Regions from separate parts of the Homo sapiens genome. Here all the other regions are linked to region 1. Evidence: fine-mapped expression QTL. A gene starts in region 1. Each other region holds a variant in brackets. All regions are shown on one strand. Distances are from middle to middle. Region 1 holds the start of NSMCE1 (NSE1 component of SMC5/6 complex). Region 2 overlaps NSMCE1 (NSE1 component of SMC5/6 complex). Region 3 overlaps KDM8 (lysine demethylase 8).

Evidence for each region. PIP is the estimated chance that this variant, and not a neighbour inherited with it, causes the effect.
Region 2: its variant is fine-mapped to the expression of NSMCE1 in T cells (TOPMed, PIP above 0.99). The same link has a PIP of 0.9 or more in whole blood.
Region 3: its variant is fine-mapped to the expression of NSMCE1 in whole blood (TOPMed, PIP 0.98).

What each region holds. Positions count from the first base shown.
Region 1 is chr16:27,266,115-27,271,335 of GRCh38, reverse strand. NSMCE1 (NSE1 component of SMC5/6 complex) reads left to right here and starts at 2,564. Exons shown (of 8, transcript NM_145080.4): 1 at 2,564-2,630. It overlaps NSMCE1-DT (NSMCE1 divergent transcript), which reads right to left and starts at 3,131. Exons shown (of 5, transcript NR_037184.1): 1 at 3,092-3,131. RefSeq lists a silencer at 2,591-2,670.
Region 2 is chr16:27,221,771-27,226,991 of GRCh38, reverse strand. It overlaps NSMCE1 (NSE1 component of SMC5/6 complex), which reads left to right. Exons shown (of 8, transcript NM_145080.4): 6 at 156-272; 7 at 1,146-1,266; 8 at 1,756-1,998. The coding sequence ends at 1,835. Among named protein-coding and RNA genes, the nearest start is that of KDM8, 21 kb to the right of the region's middle. RefSeq lists an enhancer at 3,912-4,597. The variant T/G (reference allele first, on the strand shown) is at 2,521.
Region 3 is chr16:27,209,295-27,214,515 of GRCh38, reverse strand. KDM8 (lysine demethylase 8) reads right to left here. Exons shown (of 8, transcript NM_024773.3): 2 at 3,895-4,423; 3 at 765-931. The coding sequence starts at 4,392. Among named protein-coding and RNA genes, the nearest start is that of KDM8, 8.4 kb to the right of the region's middle. The variant C/T (reference allele first, on the strand shown) is at 3,027.

The DNA.
Region 1 (5,221 bases):
ATATTACTCCTTAGGGCTTTATTTCCCCTCTTATTTGACTACCTATTAGGCAGTTTATAAAGAACTTATTAGTGGTGTTAGTTCACACTTATTGAGGGCTTACAATGTGCCAGAGACACTCTTCTAAGTAGTTTACGTTTACTCTTCCTTTAATCTTCAGAATAACATTATCAACAAAGTGTTATTATTAAACCTGCTTTATAGATGAGCAAACTGAAGCTGAAAACTTGAGCTCAGTCATCCCTTAGTATCTGTGAGGGATTGGTACCTTAGTCCCCATGGATACCAAAATTCTCGATGCTCAAGTCCCTTATGTAAAATCAAAACCACCTTTGTAAAAAGCATAACTGAGAAAATTATGATAGTGAAAGAGATCTGGCCTGACTCCATCTTGCTTCTAACTTCCAAGCTGTCCTTGATCATTCCTGGACATAGGTGGAATTAATGTTGGAAAGAACTTAGTTTATAGTTTAACTTTGAAACAAAGGCAATAATAGCCCTTTCCCAAAACAAATCCCCTCCTTGCCTAGGAACGGGTCTGCCTTTGTAGACTAACAAATTAGCTAAAAGATTAGAAATTATGGTTTAGGAGGTCACGCAAGCTGGAGGCTACAAGATTCTGACCCTCCCCAGATTGCTTCCGGGAGTAACATCACTGTTCTAAAACCTAAAATCAGTGCTTGAGATATTTTGCAGAACCCGTGTTCTAATGCACCAGCTGACGCCACCCAGCCCTGTAATCTGGCTAATCTGGTCCTATGGTCCTAACCCAGGATCTGACTCAGTGCAAGAGGACAGCTTTGACTCCTTTCCTCTCTGATCCAACCTATCAACACTCTCTAATCCCCAGCACCTCCAGCCACCAAATTATCCTTGAAAACCCTGAATTTCCAGGGAGACTGATTTGAGTAATAATAAAACTGTGGTCTCCTGTTCAGCCAGCTCTGTGTGAATTAAACTTTCTCTATTGCAATTCCCCTGTCTTGATAAATTGGTTCTGTCTAGGAAGCAGGCAAGGAGAACCATTGGGTGCTTACAAAATGCGAGAATACTTGCATTTAACCTACACAAATCCTCCAGTATATTGAAAATCATCTTTAAATTACTTACAATACTTAATACAATGTAAATGCTATATAAGTAATTGCTATGCTGTATTGCTTTCGGAATCTGTATTATTTTTATTGTTGAACTGTTATTTTTTACTGTTTTCCCCCACAAATATTAACCACCCACAGTTGCTTCAATCCGTAGATGGGGAACCTGTAAACATGGACAGCTGACTGTACTTTGTCCTATGTCTCAGAGACACTGAGTTTAAGGCCCAGGATTCCATGTTGACCATCCAGCTCCAAAGCTGAAGCTTTTAATCACCACACACCACTGCTTTCCCACTTAGCAGATGAAACTGAAGCCCAGAGAGGTTAAGAGGTTGTCCAAGATCACAGGGGTGGTGAGTGACCAAGCCTGGATTTGATCTATCCTCACAGAGACAGATATTTGCAGGTACTGCTGTTCTATATTAGTTACCTGTTTCCCTTGCTAGGCTGCATCCCTAGCTCTCAGACCAGGGATAGAATTCAAACGTTTGGAAAATTAACGCCTTGAAGACTCAAAGCAGTCCATTCACTTCCACGAGTAATTTCACTTGCTTTCTCACAATCCCTAGGTAAGATAACAGTTAACATATAATCAGCACTCCCATGTGACACTTTTCAATGGCCATGCTAAGCACCTGATATAGGTGTTATTATCTCTTGTAAATCTCACCAACACTATTTTGCAAGAACTAATATCCTCATTTAATGGAAGAGGAAACTGAGGCTCAGTGACTTGCCCAAGCGCCTGCCAACTAGTAAGTGGCAGAGCCAGGATTCTAGATCAGGCTCTATGACCACAGAGTCCACATTTTTCTTTTCTTTTTTTTTGAGCTCTGTCACCCAGGCTCGAGTGCTGTGGTACGATCTGGCTCACTGCAACCTCTGCCTCTCGGGTTCAAGTGATTCTCCTGCCTCAGCCTCCCGGGTAGCTGGGATTACAGGCACACACCACCACGCCCGGCTACTTTTTGTATTTTTAGTAGGGACGGGGGTTTCACCATGTTGGCCAAGCTGGTCTCGAACTCCTGACCTCAAGTGATCGGCCCGCCTTGGTCTCCCAAAGTGCTGGGATTACTTACAGGCGTGAGCCACCGCGACCGGACCAGAGTCCACATTTTTGACGTCGAGGCCACACTCAGTTCCACAGATGGGGAAACTGAGGCCCGGGGCAGGGCACTACATTGTGCCAGCGGAATGGTGGCCATTGAGGGAAGCCCAGGCTGCACGCCAATTCTTCCTCCTTGGTCAGGGAAGTCACTGAGGTGCAGGAGGCGGAGGGCGACAAGTGGAAGCCCCTTCCCATTATTAAGGATCGAGAGCGGGCGTAATTTGGGATCTAACCCACGAGGCGGAACCACCAGGGCAATGGCGCAAACGGAGAACCGGAAGTGCGTCACTCAACGGACGGGCGAATAAGCCGCAGGCCACCAATGGGAACGCCGCGTTCGCGTTCGCCCCGCCTCAAAGGAAGAAGAGTCCACCTTGCGACCGTATCCGCTAGCGCGGCCTGGGATGCGCTTGGGCTCCCTGGTGGGTAACGTGGGGAGCTAGGGGTTGGAGGGGAAAGAAGAGGGACTTCAAGGAAGGCGAGGGGAGGACGGAAGGTGGGGTGGGCGAGACAGGCAGTGGGGTCCGGCCCCGGGGTCGGTCCCCGTGGGCTGTGGAACTCGGGGACTGGGGTCTTGGGGTTTCCCCCTTCTTGATGGGGAAACTGAGGCCCAGACAGGGGCCGCAGAAAACAGCGGACTGGGATGTCCTCCCGCAACACACACGCAGACATCTAAAAATCTTACTATTTAGTGAAAAATATTTTTAATCGTAATTACGATTTAACAGGTAAAGATACTTTTCATTGTAACAGGTGAAAAAGCAAAATATAAAATTCGATTCAAACTGTGATTACATCTATGGAAAATACAGCCTTTGCCGACCACCCTCTTTGTCCCGCCGCCCTCCGTGCTCCCCTCTGTTTTGTGTACGGAGTTTCTTACTTTGTACAAGTCCGCAGCCGCTTATGTTACAGCCCCGAGGCCAGATGCGTTTAAAATCGAGGAGTTCTCGGAGTTTGGAAAGGTAAAGTCCCTATGTTCTATGTTAGGTTTCACCCTCAGAGGGGGCTGGAGCAGCGGCTTGTAATCAAATACACGACCCTTTCCACAGCTAAAGTTATGAAGATACGCATATATTACATTGACCTGGTCGCGGTGGCCCACGGCTATAATTCCAGCACTTTGGGAAGCTGAGGGGGGCGGATCACCTGAGGTTCGGAGTTCGAAACCAGCCTGGCTAATATGGTGAAACCCTGTCTCTACTAAAAATACAAAAAATTAGCCGGGCGTGGTGGTGCGTGCCTGTAATCCCAGCTACTCGGGAGGCTGAGACGGAAGGCTGAGGCAGGAGAATCGCTTGAACCCGGGAGGCGGAGGTTGCAGTGAATCAAGATCGTGCCACTTCACTCCAGCTTGGGCAACAAGAGCGAAACTCCGTCTCAAAAAAAAAAATGCATATATTTACACTGTTGGGATAAATAACCATAAATAGCCTCACCTTAAGTCAGGTCAAGTTTTCCAACTTAAACAAGTTTTGGTATTCAGACTTTTTTTTTTTTTTCCCCTGCATCCGATCATCCACTAGTATTCATACCTTTTTAGATTTGAGGGTTGCAGATGAGGGACCTGGATTGTAGTTGTTCTGTTCACTCACTTTTCTCACTCTCGCTGGATAGAGAGTGTCCTTGAAAACAGGAACTGTGCTGTTGTATGGTCACGTCTATCTCTGCCACCAACTCTTGTGTGTCACCTTGTGCCCTCTTAGTCTCAGTTTCCTCATCTGTAAGATGGGGTCAGTGACCCTTTGCTCATAAGGTTGTTCTGGTTTGGGTTAAATGAGGTCGGGCATGTGAAGCACTAGAATTGTGTTAGCACCCGCACGAATGGTATGACTGAGATTTACTTATTCCACAAACATTTCTATTTTAAAATTATTAAATTTAAATAAATTGATTTAATTAATGCATTTAATTAATTTAATAATAAATTTAAACGTATAGATGTATTTCTTAAAATGTGGGTGATAGGAATTTTAAAGATTTATATAATGCTTCAAAAGCCTTCGAAAAGGTTTTTTTAATTGGTTTATCTGTATATATGAACTCTTGAAACTTATGGCTAAAACACTAGGATTTATCTGCAAGGTTGCAGAGAGATAATTCTGCCTTAAATTGGCTAAAACAAAAACAAAACCAGCCAACCTATATTATACATGGGATTAAAACCAATTTTTCTCCCATTTTTTTTCTCCTTTTTTCTTTTGCTGCCCACATTATGCCTTATTTTATGAGCCCCAGTTTTCTGGGCTTAGTTAAAAAAAATTCAGTTCTAAACATTGAATTTAGGGAGTTTTTGTTCTTGAATAAAAAGGCATATACTTAGAAAAAAAATCTGTTTATCCGGGAAAATATATTGAAATCATGCTGCTGAGCCTCTATTTTCTTTGATGTTTTGGTTCTGTATTATTTTATCATAACTTTTTAGCATTTAAAAATTTACTGATGTACATTTAAAGCCAATAAACTGTTTTAATTAATTTTTTTAAAAAAAGTAATTTTTTTTTTCTTTTTGTGACAGAGTCTCGCCCTGTCGCCCAGGCTAGAGTGCAGTGACGCGATCTTGGCTCACTGCAACCTCCACCTCCTGGGTTCAAGCGATTCTCCTGCCTTAGCCTTCTGAGTAGCTGGGATTACAGGCGTGCACCACCACGCCTGGCTGATTTTTGTATAAAATAAAATTATTTAAGTAGGTAATACATGTCTATGCTAATCCCACCATTCTCCCTACAGTCTCTTCTCATAGAGACAAGGGACATAATATGCATAAACAAGCTTATGGTTGTCTTTCTTCCACTCCTACTTTTCCCACTCCTTTTCCACCAAATTATAGCATTCAATCCTATCCTGTTCTCATTCTCATTTACATTTATTTTGGCTGTTATTTAACATATTCACATTATTTTGTTGTTGTTGTTGTTGTTGAGAGTGGATCTTGCTATGTTGCCCAGGCTGGTCTTAAACTCCTGGCCTCAAGCAGTCCTCCCGCCTTGACCTCCCAAAGTATTGAGATTAC
Region 2 (5,221 bases), 44 kb after region 1:
GGATGTGGCTGATGCCCGTTGGCTGGGGTTGGTGAAAAGCTGCGTAGACCCTTGTGTCTTCCTGAGCACTGGGCTGTGGGATCACAGAGGGAAGAGAGGTGGTGAATGGGGAGAGGGCCTGGCTGAGGGTGGCCACCTCCTGTGTGTCCCTGCAGAAGGAAGGGGAGTTCACCCTGCACGGCCGGGCCATCCTGGAGATGGAGCAATACATCCGGGAGACGTACCCCGACGCGGTGAAGATCTGCAATATCTGTCACAGCCTCCTCATCCAGGTACCCGCAGGGCAGGGCACGGGAGCTCATCACTGGGCCCTCGGCTCCCGGGGCTCTGTACAGGTACTTCCCGGAATCCTGGCTCTGGGCCCAGCCCTCCTGCACTGCTGGCGCATCCTCCCACAAGAGCTGGCGGAGGCCATCTCCCAGGACGTGTCAGGACGCCTCCCTGCTGTGCCCCGCAGGGACGCACTGCCGCCCTCCTCCCTGGTTCTGCTGTTGGGGTCCAAGGGCCCTCGCTTACTTTATTTTTCTCAGGAAGGCTGAGTGTTCTGTGCAACCTGCATCATCTTGGTAGTTTTGTAGTGAGTGTCTCTTGTCGATTGCTGCTTTCTGGAGTGGTCTTAACACTGGTTTGCAGGGCTTTGCAACCGCTGAACCAGCGTGGACATTGATGTGTCTTTCAGTTTCTATCGTTTTGCAGCTGTAGCTGTTTGTAATTGCAATTGCTCTTACGGGCCTCGTACACCTGTATCCTTGGGCACCTGGTGATTATTTCCTTGGGCGGAGTTTCTGGGACAAAGTGCACTTTTTTTTTGAAAGCTTTTGATTCACATTAGCAAATAAGCTTCTGAAAAGCTGTGGCTGTCCACACGCCACCTGCAGGATCTGAGTGCAGGAGTTTGGGAGCCCTCGGCTTCTGTCACTGCGTTCATGTGTTCAGAATTGTTTAGTAAAACCCACCGCAACAAGCAGCAAGCAAACAAAAGACTCCACTGCACTAAGGCGTTTGGGATTATTTTCAATATTAATCTGGGGCCCAGAAGATAACACGATGCCACCTGCTGCCCATTTCCCTTGTGGCTTCCCCGGAGGTTTGCAGAACATGGAGGTGTGCACCAGCTCCGCCGTCATTGGCCTTTCCTGTTTCAGGGTCAAAGCTGCGAAACCTGTGGGATCAGGATGCACTTACCCTGCGTGGCCAAGTACTTCCAGTCGAATGCTGAACCGCGCTGCCCCCACTGCAACGACTACTGGCCCCACGAGATCCCAAGTGCGTGGGCCCTGAGGAGCTCATGGGAGGGGCTGGGCCAGCAGGACGTGGGGCCTGGTGCCAGGGAAGCCCTTGGAGACAGGGCCCTGAAGGGCTCCAGGGTGTGTGGGGGTCCGTGTTAGCAGCTTGAATCCTAGAAGAAGCCACTGCAGGAAGTAAAGGCTGAGCTACGTGCACCGCTCCAGAGGACTTTCTAGAACCCAGCTGAAATTCCAACGTGTATGAGCATTTTGTCTAGACAAGGCTCTCTCTCTGGCAGCCCTCTCAGGAGGGGGACGTGAAAGCTATGTCCACAGCTCCCTCAGTTTGTTCCTCTCTGAACTGGGGCTAACTCTGCCTTCCTCACGGGCTGGGGAGGGTTAGCAGTGAAGGATGGTGTAGACCTAGGACAGTCCTTGGCACAGGAGACGTAGCTGCTGGCTCCAGCTGGTGCCCCTGTGCTGCCAGCCCCTCCATTCACTGTGTCTTTCCTGCCTTTTCTGTCTACAGAAGTCTTCGACCCTGAGAAGGAGAGGGAGTCTGGTGTCTTGAAATCGAACAAAAAGTCCCTGCGGTCCAGGCAGCATTAGCCATCGTGCCCTGCTGAGGGGCTGGCTGCCTTGAGTGGCCTGATCGCCACAGCCCTTCTTGGAAGAAAGGCGTCCGTGTTTCAGGTTCCACGCGAGTCACCTCTTTCGTCTTAATGTTCACCGTCCACAGCTTTGGAATAAACCATCCTGGGAAGTTGCTGCAGCCCGTCTGTGTTCTCGAGCCCGTGTGTGAGGCTCCGTGTTGGGGCCTTGCCTTTCCTGGAGTTCGGTCGTCACTCAGACCCCCTGGGTTTGGGCTCCAGCAGGTGAAGCCAGCAAGAGCCCCCAGCAATGACTCAGAACAGCTCACTGTCCTTGCCCAGGGCAGCCTTGCCTCCAGTCCCAGCGGTGGCCAGCTGTCCCAGCAGGACTGGGCTGGCCCGAACCTGGATGTGTGAGCCTTGGCCTCCCCAGCTCCCCAGTCTGGACTCTCCCCTGGCCCAAGGTGCCACTGGCCTGAATGGGCTGAGGCTGGGCGTTTGGGCGGGATGCGTGCTCTCCCTCCCTGGACGCTCTGCTCCCTGTGGGTGCCCGGCAGCCCTGCCATCCAGCTGTCCCAGCCGGGACTGGGAGTCAGCCTCAGTGCTTCCTCTCCCTGACCCTCCTGCATCCCATTGTCACCAGATCCTGTCCAGCCCAGCTGCCAATAGCCCTCTAGCCCTGCCACTGCTGCCTCAGGCTGAGC[T/G]CCAGCCCCGGCCCACACTCTGCCTCTGTGCTCCCTGCAGAAGACCCCTGGATGCCCCCACTGCTGCAGCAGGGCTGTGACCCCTGGTGAGGCTCCTGCTCATCTGCCACCGCCTCCCCCCACCCACTGCTCAGGGTGCAGCGCTTCCTTCGTCAGCTCCGGAGCCTCTACACAGAGCGCCCTGGGCCTGCGCGCCCTCCCCTCTGGTGTCTGGCTTTGTTTCCTGGCTAGCACCCGCTCGCCCTTTGGCACTGGTCAGCCCCTCGCTCCCTGCACTTCCTCCATCCTCACACTTGTTAAGTCCCCATCTTCATCCCTCTCTTGAACCCCAGCATCAGTCAGGATGCTTCAGTCATGACAGAAAAGCCAACTCAGACTGGCTGAAACAAGGACGGACTTGGCCACAGGGGTCTTGAGGAGATGCCTGGTCTAGAGGCTCCAGCAAGGTCACCACACAGCCATATTTCTGTGTCTACTGTGCTTTCACTGGGCTGGCTGCATGCTTGGGGCCTACGAGGTGGTTTCCTAGAAATCCAGCTGCCTTCTTCATGGTAGCAAAATAGCTGCCATGCCTCTGGGCCTCGCGCATCATGCCTGGGATCAGGAGGAAGAGGGTGGCTCTCACTTAGTGGCTCCCACATCCTTGCAAGCATCCTCATGGCCCACAGCTCCCACGTGGACACCTGTGAGGTGGGGATGGGATTATCCAGCTGGCATTGGAAAATTAGACCCACCTCGGAGAGAGGGGTGGGACTGTCCCTCTCAGGCCACGTGGCTGAGGGAGCAGGGGCCTTTCCCTAAGCATATCGAAGGTGCGATCACATCTTCAGTAGCCTCAGGGGCAGCAGGGAGTGAACTTGGACACTGAATTGGTGGCTGGCCTCCCCCGCTGCAGGCAGGACCACCCCACTTTGTTCACCTCCATAAACCCAGGGTGGAGCAGGCATCCAAGGCTCAGTGAACCAATGACCCCTGCTGGTGGGAGGCTCACCCTCCCAGAACCAGGTCTGGGCTCCTCAGCCCTCAAGCCCACCTTCCCATAGTGAGGCAGCCGGGGACCCAGCCCAGCCCTTCGTCAGTGGGCAGAGACACGCCCATTGGTAAGCCCAGTACGTTCAGCCACTGCCAGCCCCGGCCGGCCTCACCTAAAGAGGGGTTTTTTGGAAACGTATGAGGTGGCTTGCAGAAATGACAGGAAGGCAGGACCAGTCTAGAATGGGAGACCTTGGAATAAGGGTCATGGATGTCAAGACAATTCTGTCACTGCGGGCGCTGCTGCCACAGGGGGTCGGCTCCAGCCTGTCTGAGCTCCTCCCGACACGCCCTCAAGATGCCGGTCCAGGGAGGAGCTGATGTACAGACCTTCCAGGACCGCATCCCTGGGGCAGAGGTCATTCTCCAGAATGCAGTCAGCTTGCCGTTCTGGAAGACGGGAAGATGGACGCCAGAAGGCAAAAAGCCAACTAGCAAATAATGCCTGCAGGAGGGGCCGGGGCAGCTCCGGACTGTCCCAGTTGTCCTGTGGTTCTGGCTGTTCATTCTTTGAGCTCGAGTCAGTCCTGGCTGGGGACTCAGGAAGCCTCTGGGCACTTGGCCACTGGGGACACCAGCCCTCCTGCTGCTTGTCTCTCTTGCCTCCAACCCCTGCATGATAACACCGACATGAACGTCCCACAACGCACACTAGCACTCACTCAAAACCCTCATGAGGAGTTCCAGATGCTGCGTGTCCTCACCCACAGGGCAGGACATTTCCCCTTTTCCCATTCCTCATCTGACAAGGGACATCTGCTTGAAGCCACCTGGCCAGGATACCACACGTTAATGAACGTGGCCTCCCGTGCCCAGCTTTCTGTCACGCTACACTACAGATGGGCCGTGGGGCTTGCCAGCTGGAGCGGCTAGGCACTGGGAGCTGGGGCCACAGTCCACCTGTCCTTCAGCTGGGGAAGGGGTTTGAGTTACACAGGCGGGCCAGGAGTCACAGCCCACTGTGGCCGGGCCGCCACCCCTCCTCACTAATGGCGAACCTAGTCATGAGGGCGTCCCTGTTTTATGCCTCGCTACTTTCAGGGGTGTTGACATCTGGTGTAAATTCTTCCTGTGAAAGATTAGGTAATTCACTATTAACCATGGCAGGGAATAAACAATGTCCTTGCAAACAGCTGCCCACGGAGCCAAGTGGACTCAGCTTCCAGATAGCTCTTGTGTTTGTCACTCCCCAGCACGCCCATGGCCCCTCGGCAGCCCACTCCCAGGATGAGTATCACGGCCTCTCCCTGCCAACAGCCAGCTTTCGAGAATGCAGATTCTGCTGTGTCTGCTCAAAGGCTGAGAACCCCAGGACCTACACGATAAAGTCAAATTCCTTGGCCTGGGTAGAGGGCATCAGGAGCTGGAGTTCAGCTGCCCACAGCCACTTTCCCATCCCCCTTCTAGTTACCCCAGGGTAGCTACCTCCTGGCCAACCAGAATCTTTCCTGGGGCTGCTTGATTTTTGGCTAAAAGACAAGCAGCTGAGCCAGTGGCAGGATGCTGGCAGGATGGCAGCTCAACCCTCAGGGCTCTTTTCCCCAGGCCTATCTTAGAAGCGGGGAAGAAAGAAGCCAAGGCTGGCATGTGGCTCACACCTGTAACCCCAGCACTTTGGGAGGCCAAGGTGGGAGGATTGCTTAAGCCCAGAAGTTCAAGACCAGCCTGG
Region 3 (5,221 bases), 57 kb after region 1:
GGACTCTGCCCTCTAGCCTGGGACTGATTCCAGGCCTCATCAGTTACAGGCCAGGGGATCTGAGGCAGGTTACTGAACCCGAGTCCTTGATCCCCATTTACAGAATGGGGGTGATGACAACACCTGTCCTAGTGCCAGGTACGTAGTAAAATGCTTAATGAAGCCTTGCTGTGAGGAGAGCTCCTGCAATGAGAATTCCTCCACATGTGTCAGCGGGTACCATTCCCTCCGCGAAACCACAAAACAGGCGGACTCCATCTACCTTCCTGGAGAGATGCCTCCTTATTTCCAAACTCATGCAGAGCCGCGGCATGACAGCCACGCTCCAGCTGCCTGATCTGATCTCCCCATCATGATTCTGAGAAAGGACTAGAAACAAACACAAGAGACCACAGAATCCCTCAGAGAGAGAGGGGCTGTCTCTTGGGTTATTTCTGCTCTTAGCTTCAGGGCCCTGAGATGGTCTGAAATTGCTAGGATCCTGTAAAATTGCATAACAGAAACATTCTAGGACTGCCACTTAGGGACTCATTAAAAAACCGCTTAAGGCGAGCAAGGTAGAAGGTAAGAATCCCATAACCTGCGGCATAAATTCAGAGCACCTTACTTTTCACTCTTTTTTAACCCCTTGGCAATCAGTCAAGGGCTGCTAGTGAAGCATCTACAAGGTTGCATTTCCCTGGGGATGGTCGGGAGGAATTCAGGGAGCCCTGGGGAACGCTAAAATGGGAAAAGGGACCTCACCTCCCTCAGCGACCACCCACCTCCACTTCTGCATGCACGGCCAGTGGTCAGCCACGCCTTTCAGGATCACGGGCCTCCCTGGAACCAAAAACTGCTCCCTGAAATGCTGGAGGGACGGACGGTGCAGCCGGGGGACTGTTTTTTCTAACTTCACATCTGGAATCAAACCATGGTCCGCCCTTGCTTTCTGTTTAAAATCAAAACAGAACAAAATAGCAACCACCTCAGGAAGTCGACATTTGAGGTATTCCACCAGGAACCTGTGTCAGGGGTAGGAGAGCTTAGCTGTCAAGAGTACCAGTAACAACAATAGACAACGTTTGTTATTATTACTGCTACTATTACTATTTGCTCCTCATGAGATCAAGGTGGTTTTTTTCTTAACCATTTCATCAAAAATGTTTGTTTCATTATAAACTGCTTTCACAGACATTCTGCAATAAAGGAAAACTTACTATCTCCAACTTCACCATCTTAAGGTCTTCTCATTCCTATTCTTTTCCCATCTTACACACACACACACACACACACACACACACACACACACACACACGCAAAATATCTCTGACCCACTGGGAGTAACAGCAATGATGAAGCAGCAGCCCTGCCTCTCCCCTCCAATCATTTATCAAAAGCAGTTTCCACATGGCCACCCGGTCCTTACAGTTTCTTAGGAGTGGCTGCACCATCATTTCCTTAACCATCTCCCAGCTGGGTGACCTGAGTAAGTTACTTGCTGCTTGAGAACCTCAGTGTCCACAGGTGTGAACCTGCTGGGAAATGGCCAGCCACACTGGCTCATACCTGTAATCCCAGCACTTTGGGAGACCAAGGTGGAAGGACTGCTTGAGCCCAGGAGTTTGAAACGAGCCTGGGCAACATAGAGAAACCTCTGGCTCTAGAAAAAATTTAAAAAGCTCGGCGTGGTGGTACATGCCTGTAGTCCCAGCCACTCGGGAAGCTGAGGTAGGAGAAATCACCTAAGCCTAGGAGGTCGAGGCTGCAGTGAGCTATGTTTTATTTATTTATTTATTTATTGAGACCGAGTCTTGCTCTGTTGCCCAGGCTGGAGTGCGGTGGCACAATCTCGGCTCACTACAACCTCTGCCTCACGGGTTCAAACAATTCTCCTGCCTCAGCCTGCAGAGTAGCTGGGATTACAGGCATGTGCCAGGACGCCCAGCAAATTTTTGTATTTTTAGTAGATATGAGGTTTCACCATGTGGGCCAGGCTGGTCTCGAACTCTTGACCTCAGGTGATCTGCCGGCCTCAGCCTCCCAAAGTGCTGGGATTATAGGCGTGAGCCACCATGCCCGGCCTGCAGAGAGCTATGATTGTGCCACTGCACTCCAGCGTGGGTGACTGGGCAAGACCCTGTCTGTAAAAAAAATGAAACAAAAGAGCAACCCACACCCCATGCCCTTGGCCACATGGTGCCCTTGGCAACACCGGGTATCATATGAAGCCTTGTTTGCTAACTTAACAGCCAAAGATGAAATGCTGTTTTGCTATTTGCATCTCTCTCTTTTATTTTTTTAACCAGAGGTGAGGCTGAACATTCTCCTGCACATTTGTTTAACAGATCTATTTCCTTCTTGTGAACAGTCTGTTCAGGTTCCTGGATTTCTACCTCCTGGGGCTCAAGATTTTTTCCCTATTGATTTGTACCATTCCTTACGTAATAGAGATATTCATTGTCTGACATATTTGTGGAAAAATTTTCTTCTCCCTTTATTTGATTTTCTTTTATTTTGGTTACATGCCTGTGTGTTTAGTGTCAACCACTTGCATTTTTCTTATATAAAAATAATTTGTGGCTCACGCCTGTAATCCCAGCACTTAGGAGGCTGAGGTGGGTGGATCACCTGAGGTCCAGACAAGCCTGGCCAACATGGTGAAACCCTGTCTCTATTAAAAATACAAAAATTGCCGGGCGTGGTGGTGGGTGCCTATAATCCCAGCTACTTGGGAGACTGAGGCAGGAGAATCATTTGAACCTGGGAGGCAGAGGTTGCAGGGAGCTGAGATTGCGCCACTGCACTCCAGCCGGGGTGACAGAGTGAGACTCCGTCTCAAAAATAATAATAATAATAATATGCATTGTAGGAAATTCGGAAAACATAGCAAAGCATTTAGAAAAATGTCAGAAACATCCCATAATTCCACTACCAAGTGTCTAGTACAGTCTTAGTCATTTCTTTCTGTGGGTCAGTACTCTGCCACTCTACAGACAAGGAAACCGAGGCTCAAAGGAGGTTAAGTGACTTGCTTGGGTGTGTTG[C/T]AAGTGAGGCCTGTGTGTTGGCACCAGGACCTGAAGCCTTCAGAGTAAACCATGCTCTGTTCCTGGGGGTGCTCTTTGGAACAGGCACATAGACCCAAGGGGTGGGAGAGATTGACCCCAAAACAGACATCAGCTAGTTGTAGTATCTCATCCAAACCCAGGAGCAGAGAGACAGGAGCAGCTGGAGGTATCGCCTCGCCTGGGTGAGACTTCAGCAAGCCCACCAAGAAGCTGAAAGAAACGGGCTGCCGCTGGCTGCAGCTCTCACCCACACAATCGCTTTAAGCTGTTTCCCTCAGGAACCACGAAGTTTCTCTGCTGCCTCTCTGCTGAAAGGGCGCTGCCTTTGCAAAAAAAAAAAAAAAAAAGAGAGAAAATGAATGGAGCTGTTCCATTTCCAAAGTCAATGGGGGCTGAGCACGGTGGCTCACACCTGTAATCTCAGTGCTTCGGGAGGCCACGACAGGAGGACTGCTTTAGGCCAGGAGTTCCAGATTAGCCTGAGAAACATGAGACCCTATCTCTACAAAAAATAAAAAATAAATAAGAAACTAAAAAAATTAGCTGGGTGTGGTGCCATGCACCCATAGTTCCAGCTACTAAGGAGGCTGAGGCAGAAGGATTGCTTGAGTCCAGGAAGTGGAGGCTGCAAGGAGCCGAGATCACACTACTGCACTCCAGCCTGGGCGACAGAACGGGACCCTGCTTCCAAAAACAAACAGAAATCCAAAATCAATGGCAATGCTGTTTTCCACCAGAGGGGTTGCAGGCCACGAGGCCTCACCCCAGGGGAGAGATGACTCGGAATTTCTAGAACAACAGGGTTGCTGGATGGCTAGTGTGCTTGGGGAGAATCTCCCCCACATACCTTTGTGCAGGGTTGCTCTGGGAGGGAGCCACGGGCAGGCCTCTTTCCAGGGAGGTGTGTCTGGAGGATGGCAGCGACTTTAAGAAGGATGTCCCCCAGGATGGCTGCCCCCATCAGCAGGCCCATGTCACAGACCCGCAGGGCTGCGGCCACAGTGTTGGCATCCTCAGGTGCCTGGCACAGACACAGGGCTTTCAGGAGGCAGCCGATGGCGTAGACCCGGCGCCAGTCTTTGTCTACGTCCTGCCATGTGCCCGTGTTGAGCTTCTCCCAGGAGTAGTCCAGGATCACCTCGCTGCTCTGCAGACACTCGTCCCTCCTGCCCTCGTAGAAGAGCTCAGTGGCTCGCTGCAACAATGTCACCACGCTCCTCTCCACTTTCTCCCCGAGGTCCAACTTCAGGTCTTCTTTACTGTGCGGCAGGAGCGCCCTGAGGGCCTCCCATAAAGTGCCTTCTCTGGCCAGGGGCTCTGCGGGGCAGTGGGTGTCTCCAGCCATCGGGCCACCACCAGCTGGTTCAGTCCCGTGCCTGGGGAGGTGGAGAGAAACAAGAGTTAGACACCAGGACAGACCTGATCCCCTGTGCATTCCCGCAGCTTCCTGCATCTCATCTGCGAGGATTTTTCAACAGCAGTCTTCTCTGTTGGGCAGAAGCTCTGGAGGGGAGGGCCCTCATCTGTCTGGGGTCACCACTGTATCTTCAGGGCCTGGCGCAACACCTGGTACTCAGCAAGCACTGGATAAACGTCTGTTCAGAAAGGAACGTGTATTGTCCTCATCTGCAGTGCCTCCCATACCCCTCCGCTGCCTGGCAAACTCCTACCCAACCTTTAAAGCCCATCTTAAATATCCCTATGTGAGGCCTGCCAAGACTCTCCAACAGTGTTCTGTGTTCCTGCAGCCCTTGAGCTTCTCTTACAGTACTCGTCAGGATGTATGAAAACACCTGCTTACACGTGTGTCTATCCAACACTGCACTGCCAGCTCCACCAGGGCAAGAACGTAGCTCATTCCCCTACGTTTCCCAGAGCCTAAAAGCAGAGTCTGCCTCATGGCAGTCACTCAGGAGTGCCAGGCTTTGAAAAGTATTCGAGAAGGCCGGCATGGTGGCTCACGCCTGTAATCCCAGCACTTTGGGAGGCCGAGGCAATTGGATCACTTGAGCTCAGGAATTCAAGACCAGCCTGGCCAACATGGCAAGACGCCGTCTCTACAAAAAATACAAAAATTAGTTGGGCACGGCGGTACATGCCTGTGGTCCCAGCTACTCAGGAGATTAAAGGTGGTGGGATCACTTAAGCCTGGGGGCAAAGGTTGCAGTAAGCCG